3 separate regions of the Homo sapiens genome follow, and regions 2 and 3 are each linked to region 1. Evidence: fine-mapped expression QTL. A gene starts in region 1. Each other region holds a variant in brackets. All regions are shown on one strand. Distances are between the middles of the regions.

Region 1 (7,979 bases):
CAGGAGTTTGAGACCAGCCTGGCCAACATGGTGAAACTCCTTCTCTACTAAAAATACGAAAATTAGCCAGGTGTGGTGGCAGGTGCCTGTAATCTCAGCTACTTGGGAGGCAGAGGCAGGAGAATTGCTTAAACCCAGGAGGCAGAGGTTGCAGTGAGCCGAGATCGCACCACTGCACTCCAGCCTGGGAGACAGGATGGGTGAGACACTGCCTCAAAATAAAAAATAAAAATAAATACAGAGAACAAATTTCTAGAAGGAACAGACTGGTGTTCTGGAGCATTTCCCAGGAGTGGTCCAGGTGACCTCCACTTCACACAATTTGGTTTAACACAATGCTGCTCAACAAGAATGAACACGTTTATGCCCCCATCTCCAGAAGCATCACAACCTTTCATGGAAAACCCATTATTCCCACACTATTTCCATATAACATACAGTTATGGACCATCCCATGGGATGGTCCATGGCCCCACTGCACCCTTGTGAAAAATGAGAGTCAAAAACATGCCAATAATCATGTTAATGACAATACAGGTGGGTACCACTCGCACTTCACTGAGATAAAAATCCTCATGGAAGGCATCCCCCTCACGTCTCAGGACCCTTCAGAGCACAAGAAAAAGCTTTGTTCAGGTTGTATGCTGCTCTCCATCCTGAGACCTGTTCCTGAGCCACACCATAACAATAAGTGAATTAACAAAGAAGTACATTTGTGGGGAAGTTACAGGGACCCTGCAGAAAAGCCAAACTATTTGACAGAAGCTTGAAACAAACACTGCTCTGGGAAATCATTTGTATTAGCTGATGACTGGGCTCTGTTTTCTAAAATGGACATGCAACATATTCGATACTATGCTTACCACAGTTTGCTTGGTAAACCCTTCTGTCATACAACAAAATACATTCTTTCTCATGAATGATTGCTGAATATTCACCACGAGACCTAGACTCGGAAGCATGGAAAGTGTGCATTGGAACTTTCTCCCACTTGCATGGATTTGGACATGTGCTAAGAACCTGAAACTGCTTCCTTTCTGGAACTCAATTCTGTCAGTGTGCTTACTGCTGAGATGATCTGCTATCTTAAACTGAGAACACACAATAACACTGATCCACAGAAAAAAGGAGAGGTCACCATCTCCCTCATAAGATATGTTGTACATCAGGTCATGCTGTTTGTCACGTTTTAGCCATCCTAAGAAAGGACAGAAGCTGCATTCCATTCTGCAGTCTTGGCAAATGACTTTCTTCTGTTTCCACCTCTATTTTGCCTTGTTTATTTCATCTCCATTATCCCTCTTTCAGTCATGAATCATGACTTTTTTTTCTACAGTAGTCAGAGTTTTGTAGGACAAACTCAGGTCTCTCTGGCCTCTCAGCAAGCTTCAGGGCTTCATGCATGCCTGCAGCTGAGAGTGTCTGGTTGATATTCTGGTACTGGCACTGGAGCCGGCTGCAATAGGTGGTCCTCAGGTCCCAGTTGAAGAAGGCATAAATAAAAGGGTTAATGAGAGAGTTTGCATAGCCCAGCCATGGAAATATCCTCTCCACCCACAGTGGGATGCAGCTGCAGGCAGTGCCATAGACAGAAGGGTCTGGCTGTCAGGAGGAAAAAGGGCGGCCAGCACATGGTGGAGGCCCAGACGATGATCCCCAAGGTAGTCGCTGCTTTCTGTTTCCGCTTAAAGATGGAGATATTTTTTCCTTTCATGCTTGAGGAGTCTCGAAAGGTTTGCACACTCTTCCACCTCCTGGAACTTCACTGTGCCATTCAGGGTGACTACTGCTGTCTGGCTCCACTCGAGGGAAGCCAGGTAACCTGTGTTAGGCCGCGCTTTTCCTGGCGGCCTTGTAAATCTGTTAGTACATGAAAAGCATGACGCACATGGGGATTAGGATGCCACTGCGGTGGAGTAAATCGTGTAGCCAAAGTCTTGACTGACCAAGCACACCTTATCATCGTTTACATTCTGAGCCCGACCAAAAATGGTAGGTAAAGTGACAAAGGCGGAAAGAAGGCAGACAGAAAGAATCATCTTCGTCATGCATTTCCCCTTCTGCCTCATAGGGTACGTGAGAGGCTTCATGATCCCAAGGTACCTGTCGATGCTGATCACGTACAAGGTCAAGATCCAGGCCGTGCAGCACATGACATTCATGGAGAAGACGTTACAGAAAAAGTGTCCAAAGATCCACTTGCCCCCGATGAGGTCGGTGACACTGATGAAGGGCATGACCGCCATGGCCACCGAGAGGTTGGCCAGCGCCATGGACACGATCAGGTAGTTGGAGGGCTGGCGGAGCTTCTTGACGAAGCACACGGAGATACCACCAGGCAGTTGCCCGCGATCGCAGAGAGATGAGCGTCAGGACAGAGCCGATCACAACTTTCTCGGCCCTTTCTTGATTTGCTCCCCGCGGCCGGAGGCATTGCCCGGGGTTGCGTCCCAGGTGGGCGCCGGGCTGGCCGTCACCTCGGGGGCCCCCGCTCAGCAGATGCGGCGTCCCGGAGACCGCGACCGGTTCGGCGCCACCGTCGGGGCTCAGGTCGGGCAGCCTGCCCCCCACCTCCGGCAGGAGGAAAGAGCAGAGGCGCCCGTAGAGGTCCGGGTGGCCGCTGCTGTTAACATCCATCACTGCGCCGCCGTGTGGCGCTGCCCAAGAAGCCGCCCCACCCCCCTCCCCACCCCCGCGGCCGCCACAGGCTCCGGCTTTCGGCCCCGGGGCTTCAACTCGCCGGTTCCCCTCCGCCCGGCCCAGCTTGAGGCCTGCACCGGCCGCTGGGCAGCGCCAGGCTCGGCCTCGGGGCCCCGCCTGTCCCAGATCCCCGGCCGCTGCGTGAAACGCGAGAGCGCTGCCGAGCGGGGACTCCCTGAGGGAGGGACCTCGGACCCCGACGGACGCCCGGGACGCGCGGGCTCTCGGGCGCTCCGGCGGGGCTCGGCCCGCGGCTCCACAGCCCGCTGCACCCGCGCGGCTCGGAGCAATGGAGGATCAGGCAGCGGCAGAAGCTTCCGTTTCCTCCTTTTTAAATGGCTCCAAAATATTTCTTGTCGGTGGTGTGGAGTAGAGATTTATTGGTAAAATACTTGACAGAAAGCAGGCACTCAGCTGAGTAAATGGTGACAAAATTGGTGAGAAGATTTTTGAACAGGAGTGAACGAGAAAAGCCATGCTTAGAAAAGTCACCTGGAAACTGTGATTTAGAGGGATGGTAGGAAAGAGTGGCAGCAGGAAAGTGGTTTGGATGCTCTTTCAATGGTCTAGAAGAGGTCATGGGGCGGGGGTAGAGGGACAGCTACCAAGACAGGGAGCCTGGCCGCCGCTGTACCAGCGGGATCGAGCCTTCGGGTAGAGGACCGGAGAAGCGTGAGCAACCCGGGGCTCGGAGGTTGGAGCCCAGGCACCTGAGAGAGGACGTTCCCCACCACCGCTGCCTAAAGCCACTCCAGGCGAGAATCGCTTTCCAGGGCCCCAGCGGATAGGTTAGACTCAGAATAAGAGAAGGGGTCTGCGGAGGGGGACGGCCTGAGGCCCGCGGCCGGGTTCCCTCCCCAGACACCCGCGGAAAGCCCGAAAGGAGGCGGAACACGGCCCAGCGGCTCGCCACGGCGGGCCCATCCCTTGCTTAGCCGCCTCGCACCCTCGCCTCACCGCACTGCTGCACTGCTGCACTGCTGCCCTGCTGCCCGCCCTTCGCATCACTGACCCGCCCTCTCTCCGCCCCCTCGCCTCGCCGCCCCGCCCTCTCTCTCCGCCCCTTCACCTCGCCGTCCCGCCCCCTTGCCTCACCGCCGGGCTGAATTGCCGCCCCGCCCTCTAGCCACGCCCTCTGGCCCCTGCCTCTAGCCCCGCCTCTCGCCTCGCCGCCTCGCCGTCCCGCCGCCTTGCCGCCCTGCCACCCTGCCGCCCTGCCGCCCTGCCGCCCTGCCGCCCTGCCGCCGGTGGTCGCTGCCCGTGGTGCTCCGTCGCCCCCGCCACCTCACGTCCTCCCGTGCGTCGGGAGCGTCTCGGCTACAACATGTTGGGCATGATCAAGAACTCGCTGTTCGGAAGCGTAGAGACGTGGCCTTGGCAGGTCCTAAGCAAAGGGGACAAGGTAGGCCCGCAGGGCTGCCGAGGACCTGAAGGATTGCTGCCTCCCACCCCCACCCTCGTCGGGGCTGCAGCGGGTGCTGAGGGGCAGGTGGGGCAGGAATGTGCTATCGAAGGTGCGTTCTGGTGTCTGTCGCGAGTGCGGCTCTCCACCGCCCAGCATTTGGACTGGGAAGGAAAGGAGTGAGAGGTCCCCCTGCAGCCGGTGGTGAGAGGAGGGGGGTAAACAGGAGAGACTGATCCAAGGAGAGAATCCCAACTTGGGGAGTTGGGCACTGCCTGTTGAATGCATTCTTTCGTTTAAAATATTCCAAACATTCCGAACAGTTTGATTTGTTGAGAGACACTCGGTTGCAGAAATGAGTGTCGCAAGAAACTCCCAAGTACTAGAGAACTGCGGATAGTAGCCCCCTTTATCCGCGATTTCAGTTACCTGTGGTCAGCTCTTGTCCATAACTATTAAATGGAAAATTCCAGAAATACAGAAGTCCTAAGTTTTAAGTTTCCGGCCATTCTGCGTAGCAGGATGAAATCTTGATTCCTGGGACCGGAATGCCCCTTTGTCCAAGGTCAGCCTCCTATCTCTAGTAGCCGCCCTTAGTCACTTAGTAGCTAGCTTGGTGATCGGATCGACCGTGGCGGTATTGAAGTAACCCTTATTTTACTTAGTAATGGCCCCAAAGTGCAAGCTTAGCAATGCTGGCATATTGTTATAATTGCTGTTATTTTATTATTGTTGTTCATCTCTTACTGTGCCTAATTGATAAAGTTAAACTATATCATAGGTATGTATGTATAGGAAAAAACGTAGTAGATACAGGGTTCAGTTTTGTCCACCGTTTCAGGTATCCACTGGGGGGCTTGGAAGGTATCTACTATAGATAAGGGGGACTACTGTGTAAAAGAACAAGATCTGTGCAGAATAGATATAAATGCGCTACGCAGGGAGCACAGAGGCAGTCAATTCTGCCAGGGGGCTATGATGGGGACCTCAGTGGAGTGTCCTGAGCTGGGGCCTCAGGGATGTGTAGGAGTGCACACAACAGAGAAGAGCATGCACAAAGGCCCAGAGCTGTACCATTGCTTTTGGCCAGTTAGATCCTCTGGAGTTGGGTACCTAGAATACAGAATGAGTGAGAAGAGCATAATTGCTGTCTTCCCCCAAATTTATATCAGTGCTAACATGGGCTAACTGGACTGCACCCCTGAAAACAAGGAGAGTGCTGCTAGATTATAATCTCCTGGTGGACAGGTAGTTTAAACAGTGCAGCTGTATACAGAGCTCCCAATACGATGCCTCATTTGTGAAAGGACTGTATTGCCTGGGGGCCAAGTTCTGATACCTAGTACAATGATCTTCATATCACGAAAGCCCTCAATTAGACTCTAATCTGAACTCTTTGACAACCAAAGACCTTTCACCTGTTCTTATCTCCGTTTCCCCAGCTCTATGTAGAATGAACAGTTTAGCCCTGATCAGAGGTCCCACATTTGAATACCTGCAGCAACCAGGCAGGTAATGGAAATGGATGAAGCTGGCTGTTTTAGGCTATAAGGCATAGTGGGGACTGAGGCAAATCAGAGAGTGAACTCAGGTCCCCATCTCTAAACGGCAGTTCCAGCCACTTGTTGCTATGCAGTGATATATGAAACAGTGTTGCCAAATTCTTAAGGAAAACCATACATCCAGATTCTTAGCGAAATCACCCAATTTAAAAATAATTCGACAAAAACTGTTTTTTGAGTGCTATGTGCCAGGCACTCTTCTAGGCAATGGGATAAAAGATTAAAACCAGCAAAATTCTCTGCCCTCATGGAACTTATGTTTTATTGGCTAATGAACAAATAAAATGTATCATGGATCAGATAGTGATCAGTGCTGTGAAGAAAAGCAAGCAGGGGAGTGAGGAATAGGGAGTATTAGGAGTGAGGCTGTGATTTTGAGTAGGGAAACTGACATAGTTGTGCATAGGCTGGACACAAATGCAATAAGGATGCCAGTTATTAATATCAGTCCTGCTGTGAGCATCCAAAGGACCCACCCAAGCCAACACAGAGAGCTGTCTATCCGCCTCCCTGGGCAATGAAAAAGGCACCTGATAAGGTCTGCAGCATCACTGGCCTCCCCATCAAGTAGTTGCCCTACTCAGAACCACAGCCTTTCTCCTAACAGCCCTGATGAAGGTTCCTGTGATTCTAACACTTTAAGAATCCATGTGTTCTTGCTTTTGTCATGGAATGGGGCTCACTTTGTCTTTTTGGATTAATGATGATGGCCCACACAGGCGGAGAGGGGTCTGGGCTGGTTCGTGGCCTGTGCCCTCAGATTCCTTCCTCACCCATTCCCTGCTCTGCTGTCTTCCTGTGGAGTGGAAGCTGACCCATTCGGCCTGTTTCCCAGGCCAGATGTCAGCCGGCGCCCAGCTACGTTTGCTCAGTGGGAGTCTCTACTGGGAGATAAAAAGGGAGAAACCAGAGTATTTCTCCTCCTTCTCCACCCCATCAGATCCATACTACTAGGAGCTTCTCTGTGGCTTTGGCTTCCGCTACACAGGCCACCATGATTCTAGCTTCTACCCAGTAACCTAGGTATCTGAACTTAGGTAACAGGTAATTCTCCCTCTGTGTCTCCTAGGGTGCTTACTAACCTCTAGGTTGCCTCTCTGTCCCCTGCTGGCATCTCAGCCCCTCTGTTATCTGTGCAACCAATCCCTTGCATCGAAGTGCTTCTGCTCTAAATACTCTAGTAGTTTCTGTTTCCTGTTTGACTCTTATTGATACAGTGTCACTTGCCGTTAATTTGGGGCCTCTGGGATAAGGAGAACTCCCTAATAAGCATCTTCTCTCAGTGTTTGATGGGAATATGGGGCCATATGGGATATTGGTACCAGGCTAAAGCAAATCATTTAACCCAAATGAACCTGTTTCTACAGCTATAAAATGAGTATAAAAATATCTTTTCCATCTATTTCCAGAGTTACTATAAGTATTAAATTCTTTAAAACCATGAAAACATTTTGTAAAGTAGTATACATACCCTACAAATATAGTAATAGCATTATATCAGTGCTCATCTCAGCTTCATTCTTTCTAGCTGTGTGGTCACAGGCCAACTTAGCCCCTCTGAAGCTAATTGTGGAAGAAAATAATAGTTCATATATTAATAGATTGTTTTGAAGTTCAAATGAGATAACCAATTATAAAACTGTTCAATGTTAGTACTTGGTTGGAGATGGTAATGGTTAGCTTTACTGTAGTTTTACAGTAAAGTTTGGGTAAATTACTTAACATCCCGTGAGCCCTTGAATTCCTCAACTCTAAGATGAGAATAACAATGCCAATGTGAAATTAATTAATTATGCATAGATACTTGTAAACCTTTTTTTTTTTAAATATACAAACATAAAGGTATTATTTTTGAAGAGAACCTCTCCCTGAAATTATATTTTATCCTGGAAACAGCCTGGGTCAGAAACTATTGTCCACTCTCCTGGGCAAATGATGGCATACCATATTCCCCACATAGCATGGGCTTCAGGCTCACCAGATGTTGGGGACTGATTCCAAGTACTTGGCAGGGAGGCCAGTGCTGCCGCAGACCTTATCAGGTGCCTTCTTAATTGCTCAGGGAGGGAGGAGGGTAGACAGCTCTCTGTGTTGGATTGGGTGGGCCTTTGGATGCTCACAGCAGAACTGATATTAGTAACTGACATCCTTAATCAGATTTGTGTCCGGCCTGTGCACACAGGTTAGGACCTGATAGCCTGGCTTTGAGTCCTGGCTCCACTATTCACCCGCTGCAGTTTGGGCATGTTACTTAACCTCTTGTTCCCCAGTTTCATCTGAAAATGAAGATTAAAGCCCTAACTTCTTCACAGGGT
Region 2 (7,979 bases), 37 kb after region 1:
TGGGGTCTTTTTCTAGTAGGAAGAGAGATAGGGTCAGGGAAATATTAATTTCTTCTTCAAGTTACACATACTTCACAGTGCATAAATCTCAACTGTTTAATTTACCAGCCCCAATTAGACGTGGTTTTCTTGAGTGCTGATATTTAGTATTATTTATTTTTGTAGCCTCAGTTCCCAGCTGTGTACCAGTATATAGTGAAAGCTTGGTGTATGATTGTGGGATGGATAAATGAATGAATGTGTTTCCCAATTCATGAAATTGCTGAAAGAAAGGTGAGGAATGAGGATGGAGAGGGGTGTCCTGACTGTGGCACCAGCCTGGTACCTGCTTAGGATGCCAACAGGAAGTTGGCACATGAAGAAAAGTACAAAAATGCAGAAATAAATCCAGATGTTCAAGATGCATATATCCAGTGACCTACTTGACATATTCATACAAGGAATTTGCAGATACCTCAAACAGCACGTCCAAAACTGAACTCTCACTGCACACTTTTCCACCCTCCTTTTCATGCCTCCATCTTCCCCATATCTCTAAATAACACTACCATTCAACTACGTGCTCAGATCAAAACACAAAATCACCCTGAATAGACAGACATCTTCCTTGTTAGCTGGACGGCCCTCAGGCATCATCTTTCTCCCCTATGTGACTATCATCTGAGCTCAGAATATTCCTCTGGGCAACAGTGTCATCCCCCTCCTTGGGAACCTCACATTTGCACTTGATCAGGCAGCCAGCTGTTTCCTGTCTCCCCCTAACTTCTCTTACGTAAAGTGGAGGGATGGGTGGGAAAGAGTGGGGATGTCTCCTGGAGCACAAACCTACAGTGCCTCTAGCCCTGCCTGGCCAGGAGTGAGAACTTGGAAGGCCACATGCATTTTGCTGACCCCTGCCTATAATTCCTCCCTATTAACCAGGCTTTGGCCTGCACCTCGTTGTTTGTGGTGTTTGGCCCACCCTCTGGCTTAACACATTCATGATTCCCTCTCATGTTCATTCATTTCACATGTATTGAACCTCTCCTGTATGCCAAGCACTGTCCTAGGCAATTCCGTTTATAAGCGAACAAAACAAAGATCCTTACCCTTGTAGAGTAGGGTATATAGATAACAAATAATAGACATGTAAATTTTAATAGTATATTATATTATATCTTACAAAGTAGTAAGTGCAATGGCAAAATTTAAAAGTAGACCAAAGAGAATGGGCAGTGTTTGGGAGGTCAGTATGGAGGCGGTGGTGTGCAGTTCCTGCTGATGTGGCCAGGGAAGCCCTCCTGGAGAAGAAAGACTTGAAAATAGTGAGGGGTTGGCCAGACGCAACCTGAGGGAAGCCCATCCTAGGTGGCGCAAAGGCTGTCGGACAGGGCGGGCCTGTGTGGTCAAGGAACTTAGAGGTCGGAGGGGCTGAAACAGAGAGCCCAGGGGAAGCACAGAGAGGTGACAGGAGTGGGCAGGTCTGGTAAAGACCTAGAAGTCACTTCAGAGGCTTTGCCTTTTCTTCTGTATAAAATAGAGAAGGCCATTGTAGGATTTCAAGCAGAGCAGTGACAAAATCAAACCCACTGTTGCAAGAATCCCTCTGGCTGCTCTTTTGATCATATACTATAAAGGGGTCGGGGTTGGGGCTGGGGGATGAGGTCAGAAGCAGACGGCCGGTTAGGAGTTTCCTGCAGTCAAGCAGAGAAGAGATGATGGTCACTTGGACTTGGATGGTGTCACTGAAGTAGTGAGAAGTGGTCAGAGTCCGTGGTATTTTGAAGGTAGACCCAAAAGGATTTCCTGGTGGACTGTACATGAAAGAAAGAGAGGACTCAAGATGACACCAAGATTCTTGGTTTGAGCAGCTAGAAGAATGGCTTTGCTACTAACTGAGATGCAAAAAATCTGGGCTGGTGGAGCAGATCTAGGGTTCCAGGAGCCATTCTTCATTCTCTGTCTCCCAACCACGAGCAAGACAGAGATTCCACCTCCAAAGTGTCTCTTGAATCTTATTGTCTCTCTCCATCACTCCACCCAACCCTGGTGGACTAATAACCACCATCATGCCTCACCCGGACTCTTGAGATGGTCTCCTGCTTCCTACCCTGGTCTTTTCTAATCCGTTCTCAATGCCTGGTGTTCCATCGTGCATTAGACAGTCTGAAGCAGATTGATCTTTATAGTAGAAGCTGTCACTTTCTTGCTTAACACCTTTTCACGGTTTCCTGTTGCATCAGACTCCTCTCCCTGGGACTCAAGCTCTCTGTATCATCTGATGCCCACTTCCTACTCCATGCTCATTCTTTGCTACTCCCCTCCTTGCTGCAGATACAGTGGATCTTTCTATTTCTCAAACACACCATGCTCTTTGGCATCTTAGGGCTCCTGCTTATCTTGCCCTCTCCACCTGGAATGCTCTTCCTCCCACTCTGCATGGGCACAGCTGGATCTTTCGTATCCTCTGGGTCTCTGCTTAAATGGTGCCTACTCAGGGAGGCCCTCCTCACCCAACCTGTCAGAGGGACCCTCACTCTATTATTCTCTACCACAACATCTTTTACAGCATTTTCACACTAGTGATTATATATGCACACGTTTTATTTTTCTGTTGGTTGCTCTCCCACCAAACTGTAAGCTCGTTGAGGCCAAGAACTGTGCATGCTTTGTTTACCACTATATCCACAGCATTAAGCACAATGAGCAGCTATGGATGCCCCTAAAAATGTGTTGCGTAAATGAATGAGTGAATATTAACTGTAATGCACTTTATAGCTTAAATACAATAAAGACAGTTACTCTCAGAATAACATTCATACTACCCCTCAAAACAGCCACACCCTCCCTGGATAATCTGGCTACAGGGCCTCCTCCTCCTCTCTCACCTATCCATCCTCCCACTACACTCACCCACTTGTTATTTGGGTAAGAGACTGTGGTCGTCCTTGCTGTGGACATTGTGCAGGCTGCTTCCTCCATCCAGAGCTCTCCTACACCTCACTTGACCTGACTTAGACATTTCTCCTGAAAGGTCTTCTCTGAACCTCGCGCCTATGAACCCACAGAATACGCTGAATGTCTAATGATGTTTTCATTACCTGCCTACCTTCCACCCCACCCAGTAGGTAAGCAACTTAAACACAGGTAGGGGGCCCTGAGTGTTGTTCACTGTAATATCTCAAGCACAAGCACAGCACTCAGCACAAAATAGATGCTCAAAAAAAGTCATTAAAAGAAAGAACAAGCAGATGAATGAACACTAACGATACATTTCTAGGGAGAGAGTCTAAGAGTAAATAAATGGGCTACATTAATATGTAGACTTAACACTTGAATTTAACATAATAATTTGCATGTTGACAATTACATATAAAAATCCTTTGAAATTGTTAGAATCCTGGCTGGGTGCAGTGACTCACGCCTGTAATCCCAGCAATTTGGGAGGCCCAGGCGGGTGGATCACTTGAGGTCAGGAGTTCGAGACCAGCCTGGCCAACATGGTAAAACCCCATCTCTACTAAATATACAAAAATTAGCCAAGTGTGGTGGCATGTGGCTGTAATCCCAGTTACTCAGGAGGCTGAGCCAAGAGAATTGCTTGAACCCAGGAGGCAGAGGTTGCAGTGAGCCGAGATCACGCCACTGCACTCCAGCCTGGGCAGCAGAGCAATGCTTCATCTCAAAATAAATAAATAAATAAAAACAATAAAATAAACTTGTTAGAATCCTTAAGTAAGTTGCACTCTTTCTTAACCTCAGATATGGTTTTTATCATCACTTTGCTTTCAAAACCCTTTAACTCAGCTCAGACCAAATTACCTGAAAACCATCATTGATGGTTTTCCTTTCTGTAAATATGCCACAGGGAAGAGGAAACATTTGTTTAAGTTCAGAAAATCAAGAAACTTGCCCAAGATCAGAGAGCAGGCATCCAAAATTAAGTCAGACTCCAAGCCAGTGCTCATTTGATGCGACTAGTATTTTCAAAAAAAAATTTTCTTTTTTTTTTTTGAGGTGGAGTTTCACTCCTGTTGCCCAGGCTGGAGTGCAATGGCGCAATCTCAGCTCACCACAACCTCCGCTTCCTAGGTTCAAGCGATTCTCCTGCCTCAGCCTCCTGAGTAGCTGGGATTATAGGCATGCGCTACCACACCCA[G/A]CTAATTTTTTATATTTTTAGTAGAGAGGGGGTTTCTTCTCCATGTTGGTCAGGCTGGTCCCGAACTCCCGACCTCAGGTGATCTGCCTGCCTCAGCCTCCCAAAGTGCTGGGATTACAGGCATGAGCCACCACGCCTGGCTTCAAAATTTTCTTTTACCCTAGTCCCCAGTCAGAAATAATTTTACATTCAACCCAGGACAAACACACACACACATACATACACATACCCCTCAAACGTTTCACAAAATAATATTTACCATTGCTACCAATGTAAAATAAAAGCAGAGCAAAGCTAATATCACATATTATTTTATTGATATTTATATAGATTATGAAAATCCAAAATAACACAAAACAGAAATGTAGACATGATTTTTATGTAGTGGACAGATATGCTAAAGCATTTATAAATTCATTCTGTGGACTACCTGAGGCAATAAGTACATCTGATACATTGTTCAACCTAGTTTTTTTCTTTTTAGAATCCAGTCAAAGTTGAAATCCTAAAAATTCACACAAATAGGCTGTAGCAATTGTTAACAATAGTAATACACCAGTTATGATAGTAGCACTGAAATTTTTCTTCAATCTTAACCCACATAATATACATGATGTCTTTAAATCATTCTTCAGTATAAGAATTAAATACAGGCCAGGCGTGGTGGGGCACACCTATGATCCCTGCACTTTGGAAGGCCGAGGCAGGTGATCACTTAAGCCCAGGAGTTCAAGACCAGCTTGGGCAACATGGCAACCCTCATCTCTACAAAAAATACATAAATTAGACAGGCATGGTCGTCCCAGCTACTTGGGAGGCTAAGGTGGGAGGATCACTTGAGCCTAGGAAGTCGAAGCTGCAGTGAACTGAGATCATGCCACTGCACTCCAGCCTGGATGACAAAATGAGACCCTGTCTCAAAAAAATAATAATAATAAATTTTAAAAAAGAATTAAATACAATCAGTTATTCTCTTCTTTGTTCACCAGGTTTAATTCAATTATTGATTCAGAGATTTGAAAAGAAAATAGACCTTTTATTGAAATGCTTTTCTTTCAAGCTTCATATTTTCTTCTGAAAAGTAATAATTGTGACTTTGAAAGAAAAATGAGATGTAGCAATATCTCGAATTTTATTTCTCAAACTGATTTTATAATGTTCTCTTCTATGTGTTGCAGCAATGTTGGGAACATACAGCAGCATAATTATGACCTTTATAAGGACAATTTTAAGACTTAGGAATGAACATCCCTTCATTGGAATGCTGGTGCCTCTGGGATTATTTGATCCTATAGGGATATGTGCCTTTGATTTTGACTAGGCTATTTTAAAACTCTGTAGAAATATAAGTCAACATATGGAAAACTGATAGCAATGTGAATAATTCTTGCATACAGACATAAACATAAATTCTGCTCAGTGGAGTTTCAATTGAAGAATTGGAACAAGAGGATTAATTTCCCAGATGGCTTTTCCATTCACGTGCCTGGTGCTTTGTCAAGGATAGCTAGCAGGCTGGGCTCAGCTGGTACTATTGACCAGAGAATCTATATGTGGTCCCTTATGTAGCTTGGGGTTTTCAGAACACAGCAGCTGTGTCCTAGGAAGAGCCTTTGGACCAAGTATTCCAAAAGATCAAAGCAGAAGCTGCAAGGCTAATTTTCACCTAGCCTTGGAATTCACGCATCCTCACTCCCACCACATTTTATTGGTTACAAGAGAGTCACTAAAGCCAGCCTAGATTCAAGTGGAGAGGAATTAGATAGACCCCACCTCTCGGTGGGAGGAATGTGTGATACTTACAGCCACCTTTTAAAATTGCTGCCTTTTAGATTCCTTAAATGTGTTTAACATTTTAAAATGTATCGTACAGCTGAGTGCAGTGGCTCGCACCTGTAATCCCAGCAATTTGGGAGGCCGAGGCGGAATGATTGCTTGATGCCAGGTGTTCAAGACCAGTCTGGCATAGTGAATTTCTGTCTTCACGAAAAATTTTTTAATTGTTTTTGTTTTTAAGACAGAGTCTTGCTCTGTCACCCAGGCTGGAGTGTAATGGCATGATCTTGGCTCGCTGCAACCTCTGACTCCTCCTGGGTTCAAGCAATTCTCGTGGCTCAGCCTCCTGAGCAGCTGGGATTACAGGTGTGCACCACCACACCCAGCTAATTTTTGTATTTTTAGTAGAGATGGTTTTGCCATGTTAGCCAGGCTGGTCTCGAATTCCTGGCCTCAAGAGATCCACCCACCTTGGCCTTCCAAAGCGCTGGGATTACAGGCATGAGCCACCACACCCAGTCTAAAATTTTTTTTTTGAGATGGAGTCTCGCTCTGTCCCAGGCTGGAGTGCAGTGGCGCGATCTTGGCTCCCAAGCAGCTGGGATTACAGGCACCTGCCACCACACCTGGCAAATTTTTGTATTTTTAGTAGAAATGGAGTTTCACCATGTTGGCCAGGCTGGTCTTGAACTCCTGACCTTGTGATCCATCAGCCTTGGCCTCCCAAAGTGCTGGGATTACAGGCATGAGCCACCATACCCAGCCAAAATTTTTTAATTAAAAAAAATATATTAGCTGAGCATGGTGGTGTGCACCTGTATTTCCAGTTATGCCTGAGCCCAGGAGTTTCAGGCTGCAGTGAGCTTTGATAGCAGCACTGAACTCCAGCCCAGGTGACAGAGCAAGACCCTTGTCTTAAAAAAAAAAAAAAAAAAAAAAAGGAAAATAATGCCCCCAAATCAGCTAAATGTGCACTTTTACTATCCAAATACCATGTTCAAAAATATTTGCCAGATGAGATAGTTTTTCAGTTTAACAAAATCTAAATCTTATTTTTGAGTATTTTTCCTCATGGTAACCAGGACTTTGACTACGTGTGGTAAGTGGATATGTCAGCTCCAATATCTGAACAAAATATTTCTACAAGTTTTGCCCACTGGCATCTCGATTTCAATAAATCCATGAAGTTCAGTTAAATTTCTTTAGGTGCCAAAGCCTTATGTTGAATAAACCAGGGCTGTTAGTAGTTTTTTAACAATATTTATTAATTCCGCCAGATTTTCTGGTTGTATTTGTTGTCCACACTCATAATTCCTTTACATTTTTTTCAGTTTAAGTAATATTCAACGTATGGCAATTCCTCAAAGAACTAAAAACAGAACTACCATTGGACCCAGCAATCCCATTACTGGCTATATACCCAAAGGAATACAAATCATTCTACCGTAAAGACACATGCACACGAATGTTCATTGCAGCACTCTTCACAACAGCAAACACATGGAATCAACTTAAATGCACGTCCATGACAGATTAGATAAAGAAAATGTGGGACATATACACCATGGAAGACTATGCAGCTATCAAATGAGATGAGAATCATGCCTTTTGGCGGAACATAGATGGAGCTGGAGGCCATTATTCTTAGCAAATTAACACAGGAACAGAAAACCAAATACCACAGATTCTCACTTACAATGCGGAGCTCAATGATAAGAGCTTCTGAACACGAAGAAGGGAACAACAGGCACTGGGACCTACTTGAGGGGAGAGGGTGGGAGGTGGGAGAGGAGCAGAAAATATAACTACTGGGCACTGGGCTTCATACCTGGGTGGTGAAATAACATGTACAACAAACCCCCGTGACACGCGTTTACCTATGTAACAAACCTACACATGTACCCACAAACCTAAAATAAAAGTTAAAAATTTTTTTAAAAAATGTTCGATAAACAATATACTTTTCCAACGAGGAGATGATATCTAATCCAGTTGAGGCTAAAATAAAATTTAAGGCCGGGTATAGTGGCTCATGCCTGCAACCCCAGCACTTTGGGAGGCCAAG
Region 3 (7,979 bases), 33 kb before region 1:
AGCCGGGCACGGTGGCTCACGCCTGTAATCCCAGCACTTTGGAAGGCCGAAGCGGGTGGATCACTTGAGATCAGGAGTTCGAGACCAGCCTGGCCAACATAGTGAAACCCTGTGCCTACTAAAAATACAAAAAATTAGCCAGGCGTGGTGGCACATGCCTGTAATCCCAGCTACTCGGGAGGCTAAGGCGCAAGAATTGCTTGAACCTGGGAGGCGGAGGTTGCAGTGAGCCAAGACTCCACCACTGCACTCCAGCCTGGGTGACAGAGACTCCATCTCAAAAAAAAAAAAGAAAGAAAGACAAAAGCTTCGTCCTATGGAGGAAACCAGTGTGCCTGAGAATAGTTTCAATGTGAGAAGCAAGAGGCAGACAGGAACCTGATCATGCAGGTGCCTTGACACTGAAGGACTTTAATTAGCAAAGTTGATGTGATCCAACTGGCTGCTATGCAGGGAATAAACTGGAGGAGAACAAGAATGGAGAGAGGAAGACCAGATAGTTACAAGCAAAAGGTCCTGGTGGTGGATTCAGTTACTCATGCTTTGTCTCCCAGACACAACGTGTGCACAAATTCTCACTTTTCACCTGCTTTCCTGTTCTGGCAAGAAAGAAAATATGGGTACTGTTTATTTTTCTCTTATTATACAAACTATTAAGACTAACAGAACTCCTGTTTCTACTCCTGCGAGCCTGACTGCAAATGAGACAGTCACCCATACCCACCCTGACACATTCCTGCCACCCCAACAGCTTGTCTTCCTGCAGCCTCCATCAGCTTTCACCTGGGGACTGAACCAAATCATATAGACACTGAGGTTCCCTGGCTCTCTTCTCCCCTGAGAGATGCCAGGGCTATCTAGAACCATTGCGTTAGGTGACAGCCCAATACATAATATATGGAAATAAACTCCCTCTAAATTGAGCTATCATGAAGGGAAGGTAAACAGCCATCAGTTGAGATATACTATATAAAAGTAAATTATCAGTCAGCTGTGGTGGCTGACACCTATAATCCCAGCACTCTGAGAGGCTGAGATGGGAGGATCACTTGAGGCCAGAAGTTCAAGACCAGCCTGGAAAACATAGGGAGATTTCCCACTCTACAAAAAATTTAAAAATTAGCTGGGCGTGGTAGTACACACCTGTAGCCCCAGGCTGAGGCAGGAGAATTGATTGAGCCCAGGAGGTCAAGGCTGCAGTGAGCCATGATTGCACCACTGCACTCCAGCCTGGGCAATAGAGCAAGAACCTGTCTCAAAATAAATAATAAATAAATAGGCCAGGCACGATGGCTCACGCCTATAATCCCAGAACTTTGGGAGGCCGAGGCAGGTGGATCATTTGAGGTCAGGAGTTGGATACCAGCCTGGCCAACGTGGTGAAACCCTGTCTCTACTAAAAATACAAAAATTAACTGGGCATGATGGTGGCATCTGTAATCCCAGCTACTTGGGAGGCTGAGATAGGAGAATTGCTTGAGTACAGGAGGTGAAAGTTGCAGTGAGCCAAGATCACGCCACTGCGCTCCAGCCTGGGTGACAGAGCAAGAATCCGTCTCAAAAAATAATAAATAAATAAATATAAAAATAAATTATCCCTAACACACAATCATGCTAAATACTATCCATAGTCTCACTCCTACAGAGTTAACACTTTCAGCTTTCTTTATTTGAAGCACATTGTTTAATGTAATTTTATGAATGACCTAAGAATTACTTCTTTTTTTTTTTTTTTTTTTTTTGAGACAAAGTCTTGCTGTGTCACCCAGGCTGGAGTGCAGTGGCGCAATCTCGGCTCACTGCAAGCTCCACCTTCCAGGTTCACGCCATTCTCCTGCCTCAGCCTCCCAAGTAGCTGGGACTACAGGCGCCCGCCACCACACCCAGCTAATTTTTTGTATTTTTAGTAGAAACAGGATTTCACTGTGTTAGCCAGCATGGTCTCGATCGCCTGACCTTGTGATCCGTCTGCCTAGGCCTCCGAAAATCCTGAGATTACAGGCGTGAGCCATCGCGCCCAGCCAAAAAATACTTCTTAAGTATTTTTCATTATAATCTTGCCTCCAAGATAATCTAATAAAACCTGATCATCTTTAACTTCTGGCAGCTTTCTGGGTTTGGAAGCAAGCATGGTTTGTCAACCTGGGGTTTGATGTGAGGCTTAATTTCTCTCTAGGATGACATTTGAGGGTTTTTGTATTTGTTTTGTTTTGGTTGTTGTTGTTTTTTGTTTTTGAGATGGGGTTTAATTTTGTTGCCCAGGCTGGAGTGCAGTGGCACGATCACAGCTCACTGCAGCCTCAACCTGCTTGGCTCAAGCAATTCTCCTGCCTCAGCCTCCCAAGTAGCTGGGACTATAAGTGTGAGCCACCATGCCTGGCCCAGTTGAGGTTCTGAGAGGAATAATCACAATGGCAGAGCTAAAAATGTGCATGTAACCACAAACTAGAGAGAGTTGTGAGACAAATAAATCTACTGTTACCTTTGCCACCGCAAATAGTTTTATTTCTTCTTTTATGTTTTATTCCTTCCAAGAGTTTATCTTTAAGGAACTAAAGGCTCTGGAACTTTTCAAGGACCTCTGTATGAAAAGCTACCTTTTACTTGTCCAGTTCATAAAATCTCACTCACTTCTATTTCTTCTTTCTTACCATAAATATTCTCCTTTTATATTTTAGTCTTCAAGATCTGGGAATTTTATTCTTTAATCAAATGATTAATTTTTGGTCTCTTACCCCAGCCTTAATGACCAAAGGAGGATTGTTTAGATTTTTCTGAAAGGTATTTCCTAACACAAATCATTTTCTTTCTTTCTCTGACTCAATTTTTAAAACCCTAGTTTTATTCTTCTCCTGAGAGATTTTGCATGAAGCTAATCTTTTTTCCACTTCTGCAATCTTAAAGAACAACACTGGTCTGATTTGAAAAGATATTTTGTGATAAATTTTTCCTCATCATTTTTTAGGGGAATACTTATTCCCCAACCCTCAGATTCCCATGTGGAACGGTTTTCACTAGAGTATCTTGTGAGTCTCCTGACTAGTGTTCAAAGGAAGGAAGCAGGTCATGCTTAGCATAGCTGCTTCCCCTTGAGACTCATTCACTGATTCATTTTTAAAATTACTTATCCAGGCTGAATGCAGTGGCTTATGCCTGTAATCCCAGCACTTTGGGAGGCCAAGGCAGGCAGATCACTTGAGCCAGGAGTTTGAGACCAGCCTGGCCAACGTGGTGAAACCCCATCCCGACTAAAAATACAAAAATTAGTCAGGCATGGTGGCGCGCCTGTAATCCCAGCTATTCAGGAGGCTGAAGCAGAAGAATCGGTCAAAGCCGGGAGGCAGAGGTTGTAGTAAGCACCACTGCACTCCAGCCTGGGCAACAGAGTGAGTGACACTCCATCTCTAAAATAAAATAATATAATATAAAAAATAAAATTATTTATTCAACAAATATTTGAGCAGTCATTACTGAAAGGCCCTATTCTAGATGCTGGGGATGTCAGACCAGACAAAACAGACAAAAGTCCTTGTCCACATCATGTATGTTTGTGGGAACTATGAGGTCAAGCAGAGAAGAGAAATAGTTAAGTAAAATATATGCTGTGTCAGATGGTGATAAGTATTACAGAAAAATAGAATAGAGAAGGGGAGATGCAATGTGGAAGTCGCAGGGAGTGGTGGGCAGATGTCCAATTTTAAATAGGATGGTTAGGGAAGGCTTCAGTAAGAGGATGATATTGGAAGAAAGATCTAATAGAGGCATCATGAATAAAAAGAACTTGGAGGCAGAAGCATACCTGTCCTGTTCGAAGACCAGCAAAAAGGCTGCCAGAAAGGATAGTTTTTCTTCTTTTTTTTTTTTTCTTTTTTTTTCTGAGACAGAGTCTTGCTCTGTTTTCCCATGCTGGAGTGTGGTGGTGCTGTCTCCGCTCACTGCAACCTCCAACTACCAGGCTCAAGCGATTCTCCTGCCTCAGTCTCCCGAGTCACTGGGATTACAGACACCTGCCACCACACCTGGCTAATTTTTGTATTTTTGTATTTTTAGTAGAGATGAGGTTTCACCACGTTGGCCTGGCTGGTCTCAAACTTCTGGCCTCAAGTGATCCACCCGCCTCGGCCTCCCGAAGTGCTGGGATTACAGGTGGGAGCCACCGCGCCCAGCCAGGAAAGGATGGTTCTAGGGAGAGATTAGAGATTAGATGAGGTCAGATATGGCCAGAGTAGGAACAGATTCTGTAGACTTGGTAGGGAAAATAAAGACTTTGGCTTTTAGTCTAGATTAAATAGAGAGACTTTGAAAGCCTTGAGGCACAGAAGTGTTTATTTGACTTAGATTTTAAAAGTGTTCCTTGAGATCACTTTGCTGTTCTGAGAACAGACTGTGGGGGTACTGGCAGTGATGAATCACTTTTGACTATTACAATGACCCAAGCCAGAACTGATGGTGGTTTAGACTAGGGTAGTTTCTTTGAGGGTGGGGGGAAGTGGTAGGATTCTTAACTTAATTTGAAGGTAGAGCCGGCAGGATTTGTTGAAGAACTGAATGTATGGCATGAGAGAAAAAGGTGTCAGGGACCGTAGTGAGTCTTTTGACCTAGCAACCAGAAGATTGGAGAAGGGGAAAACTGAGAGAGGAGTGGGATGGGAAGCAGACATCAGGGGTTGGTTTTGGATGTGTCAAATTCAACATCCAACTGGACATGCAAGTGGAAATGTTGACCAGGCAGTTGCATGTATGAGTCTTGGGAGTTCAGGGAGAAGTCCTAGGTGGAGATATAAATTTGGTAGTCATTTGGTAGATT[C/T]GATAGTAAATTTGGTAGCTAATGCACATAACCCATATTTAAAGTTGGGAAATGGAATAAGATCACAGAAAGCATGTGTGATGCAGGAGGGGAGGGGAGCGTGAACGCTGCAGCATTTCACCATTCACAGTTCAGGGAGAAGAGGAGGAACCAGCCAGAGAAAGCAGCAGGCATAGCCAGTACGGTCAGAGGATAACCAGGAGAGTTTGTTGTCCCTGAAACCAAGCAAAAAAAGTGTTTTTGGGAAAAGCATAGTCAATTATTTTAAATGCCACAGAGAGATCAAGGAAGAAAAGGCTAAAGAGTAACGTGCCTGCCTACAGAGAGCACACACTTTGTTCTACTCTGCTGTGGTTTAAGGGCCTGCAGTTGTCCTGCTGTGCTAGCCTGGGTACACCTCTCTAATTCAAAGAAAGAATTTGCAAGCCCCTTTTACAACAGATCTAAGCCATGTCATTCAGCGTAGCTTTCTTTCAATAGTGAAGCTGATATTTTATCTCCATCTGTCCATCTCTTCAGTCTATTCCCAGATCAATCAGAGCTATGCAGAGAAGATGGGTATTAATTTACTGAGTCCCCTGAACCTTCAGTAATCATAAGTATTCCTTTTATTTATCTCTGCTTAGTAGATGTGAAGTTTTGTTCTCTTATATAGTAGATTTTCCCAGTAGTATTATCTTATCTACTTCTTGCTCTACCTTAGAGATTCTCTCTAAGGCAACTTTCTTCTTCTCTAGTCAAGCTTTTAACATCTATTATGAGAGTCTTTGCAGATGTCCCTACGTAGGATTGGAGAGAGGCCCTAATCCATCCCTGTAGTGACTCTTTCTCCTTCTGGGAAGCAGATGGGATTAACAGACCATTACTAATTATTGTTCTTAAACAAGGCACTGCAAGATTTATAAACCTCTTCCCAAAAGCCAGGCTGCACATCTGACACAAAGAGGAAAACGTCGCCTTTTTTTTTTTGTTTAACAACTTCACCATGAGGAGTCCCTCTTTGCTGAGAAATTGTGCTTTGTATTTTTTCCTGTTTCTAAGAGGACAGGCATACACTTGTCCTTCGGTGAACCAAATGAAGTAGAGGATAAGATGTGATATCTCTGTAAGCCCACAGGATCTGCTTTGAACAAAGTAATATATTTGAAGTGAAAAGCAATCCTTCTTGAAATAGTCACGAGCTCGTGCCTGCAGACACTTAATTGCAAGGGGTTGGCAACCTGTCTTTCATCCATGTCCTGATGAACAAAGACACACCCCATGTGGGCCAAAGACCACCGGAAACTTCAAAAAGTCCTCTTCAGGCAGAGGACAGGAGCCACGAGGGTCATACCTGGTACTGTATGATGAGGATAAAGGTGATAAGAAATTCTCTAATGGCCTCTGTCCCTTCGTGTCTGAAATTTCTATCTCAAGATCAAAAGAACCAAGGTACAGCCTAGGTAAGAAAGGGCTCTTGTCCTAATTTTGGAAGAGCCTAAAAATGAAACCCAGGAGAATTTCTTAGAGAGATGATATTGCCTGGAGTTACCTTTCCATGAAATTAGACATTTCATTTTCATTCTTTCTTTTACCCTGGAGTTAAAGACTTGTTTGGTTTTTTTTGGGTCTTTGTTTTCCCTTGTCAATACCTTAAAGATTTTTAAGTAGGATTCTTAGAGAGATTCACGTGAAGCTATTTTCTTATTACCATCACAAATACTTTATTTTCATCCTACCCTCCATCACCCTCTGCCTCAAAAATCTCAGATTTTATTCTTTTATTCAGGAGATTGTGCATAAAGTTACTTATTTCAATGAAAAAAAATATTTATTTCTGTATTTCTTTTTACGTCTTGGCCTGAAAATCATGAAACTCTGTTGTCTTATTCCAGAGATTTTATTTACCTAAAGCTACTCCCTCCTTCACTAATAGAGGTTGTAAGACAAATAGGTTTCTCATAAAGAACTTTCATGTGACCCAAACTTTTTCTTTAAGACTACGAATTTTTTTTCTCAGCCGTAAAAACTTACAATTGAGTTTTCTTATTGAGAAAATCTGTACACATCTTTTCTCTTTCACCTTGAAACGGGGGCTAAAATATTAGACACTGAAGAATTGTATTACCCTTTAGTTTCCTAGTACATAATTCTTTCCAAGTAGAATAACAATTTAACTTTCAATCTGTCTTCCATTACATTATTACTCAGGTTTTAAAATATTCATCTCATTGGTGATCTATCATCTCTCCCAGTTTCTGGTACTTGAAAAACTACATGTTCTTCAGTTTTAATTTAAGTGAAGAAATGAAGGAGAAAATTTGGTAAACATTTAGTTTAAGATGGAATAAGAAACAAAAATCTTCTTTACTCCTAAATACAATGTATTTGCCAGAGGTATTGTTCACCTACCAACTTTAATTTCATGCCTTCTCAGTAAATCCAGAATGACAATTTCAGAGTGAAGAGCAAGCAGTACAGCCCTCACACAAAAGGGGCCCTAATTCTGAGCATTATGCCTCAGAGAATGCCACGCTATGGGGTGTCTTCCTTGAAATCTAAGTCCCCTCCAGTGGCTGCAATGCCAATTGACTGAAGCATGCCCCTGGTATTCCCTGTTTCTCTCCTTGGGGAACCTGCCCCAACCACATGCTGGTGAATTTAGCTATGCATTTGAAACCAAACTGTTTCTATTGATGAGGCTCTGCTAGAAACACTTCCCCAGGTCTTCCCCCATCCCTACCATCTTCCCACCCCAAATAGCCACCCCACCTCACCCCTACCCAGGTCCCATTTCAGCCCTGCTGAAGGAGATTTGTGTGTGTGTGGTTGTTTCTTTTAATAACATTTGATCTCAATGTTGGAACGGATCTCAGAGGTCTGCAAATCTAATCCCCAACGAGTAGCAACTGCTTCTTTAATCCTCAGTCATGTTATCTCTGCTGGGACATTCTCAGCTCCCCAGAGCTCAGGGCACGTGGCAGATAGCCACTGTTGTAGGGCTTGGAGACTACACCTGTGACTGCCTCCCAGGAGAACTGATGCTGTCTTCTGAAGCCAGAGGGAGCAAGGCCAAATCCCTGCTCCATACATCAACCCTGAAAATGCCTGAAATATTGATGCAGGGTTCTTAGGAAATTTTGCTTAAGGTTATTTTCTTCTTTTTATCAAAAATACAGCCTGGACAGCATGG

Evidence for each region.
Region 2: its variant is fine-mapped to the expression of HEBP1 in whole blood (TOPMed, PIP above 0.99).
Region 3: its variant is fine-mapped to the expression of HEBP1 in whole blood (TOPMed, PIP above 0.99).

Annotation. Positions count from the first base shown.
Region 1 is chr12:12,996,160-13,004,138 of GRCh38, reverse strand. HEBP1 (heme binding protein 1) reads left to right here and starts at 3,874. Exons shown (of 4, transcript NM_015987.5): 1 at 3,874-4,102. The coding sequence starts at 4,025. All of the region lies in intron 2 of GPRC5D-AS1 (GPRC5D and HEBP1 antisense RNA 1), which reads right to left. It also overlaps the pseudogene HTR7P1. RefSeq lists an enhancer at 1,810-2,355 and silencers at 2,780-2,929, 3,690-3,809, 3,860-4,009.
Region 2 is chr12:12,958,702-12,966,680 of GRCh38, reverse strand. All of the region lies in intron 1 of GPRC5D-AS1 (GPRC5D and HEBP1 antisense RNA 1), which reads right to left. Among named protein-coding and RNA genes, the nearest start is that of GPRC5D, 11 kb to the right of the region's middle. The variant G/A (reference allele first, on the strand shown) is at 4,139.
Region 3 is chr12:13,028,781-13,036,759 of GRCh38, reverse strand. No RefSeq gene overlaps it. Among named protein-coding and RNA genes, the nearest start is that of FAM234B, 12 kb to the left of the region's middle. The variant C/T (reference allele first, on the strand shown) is at 4,808.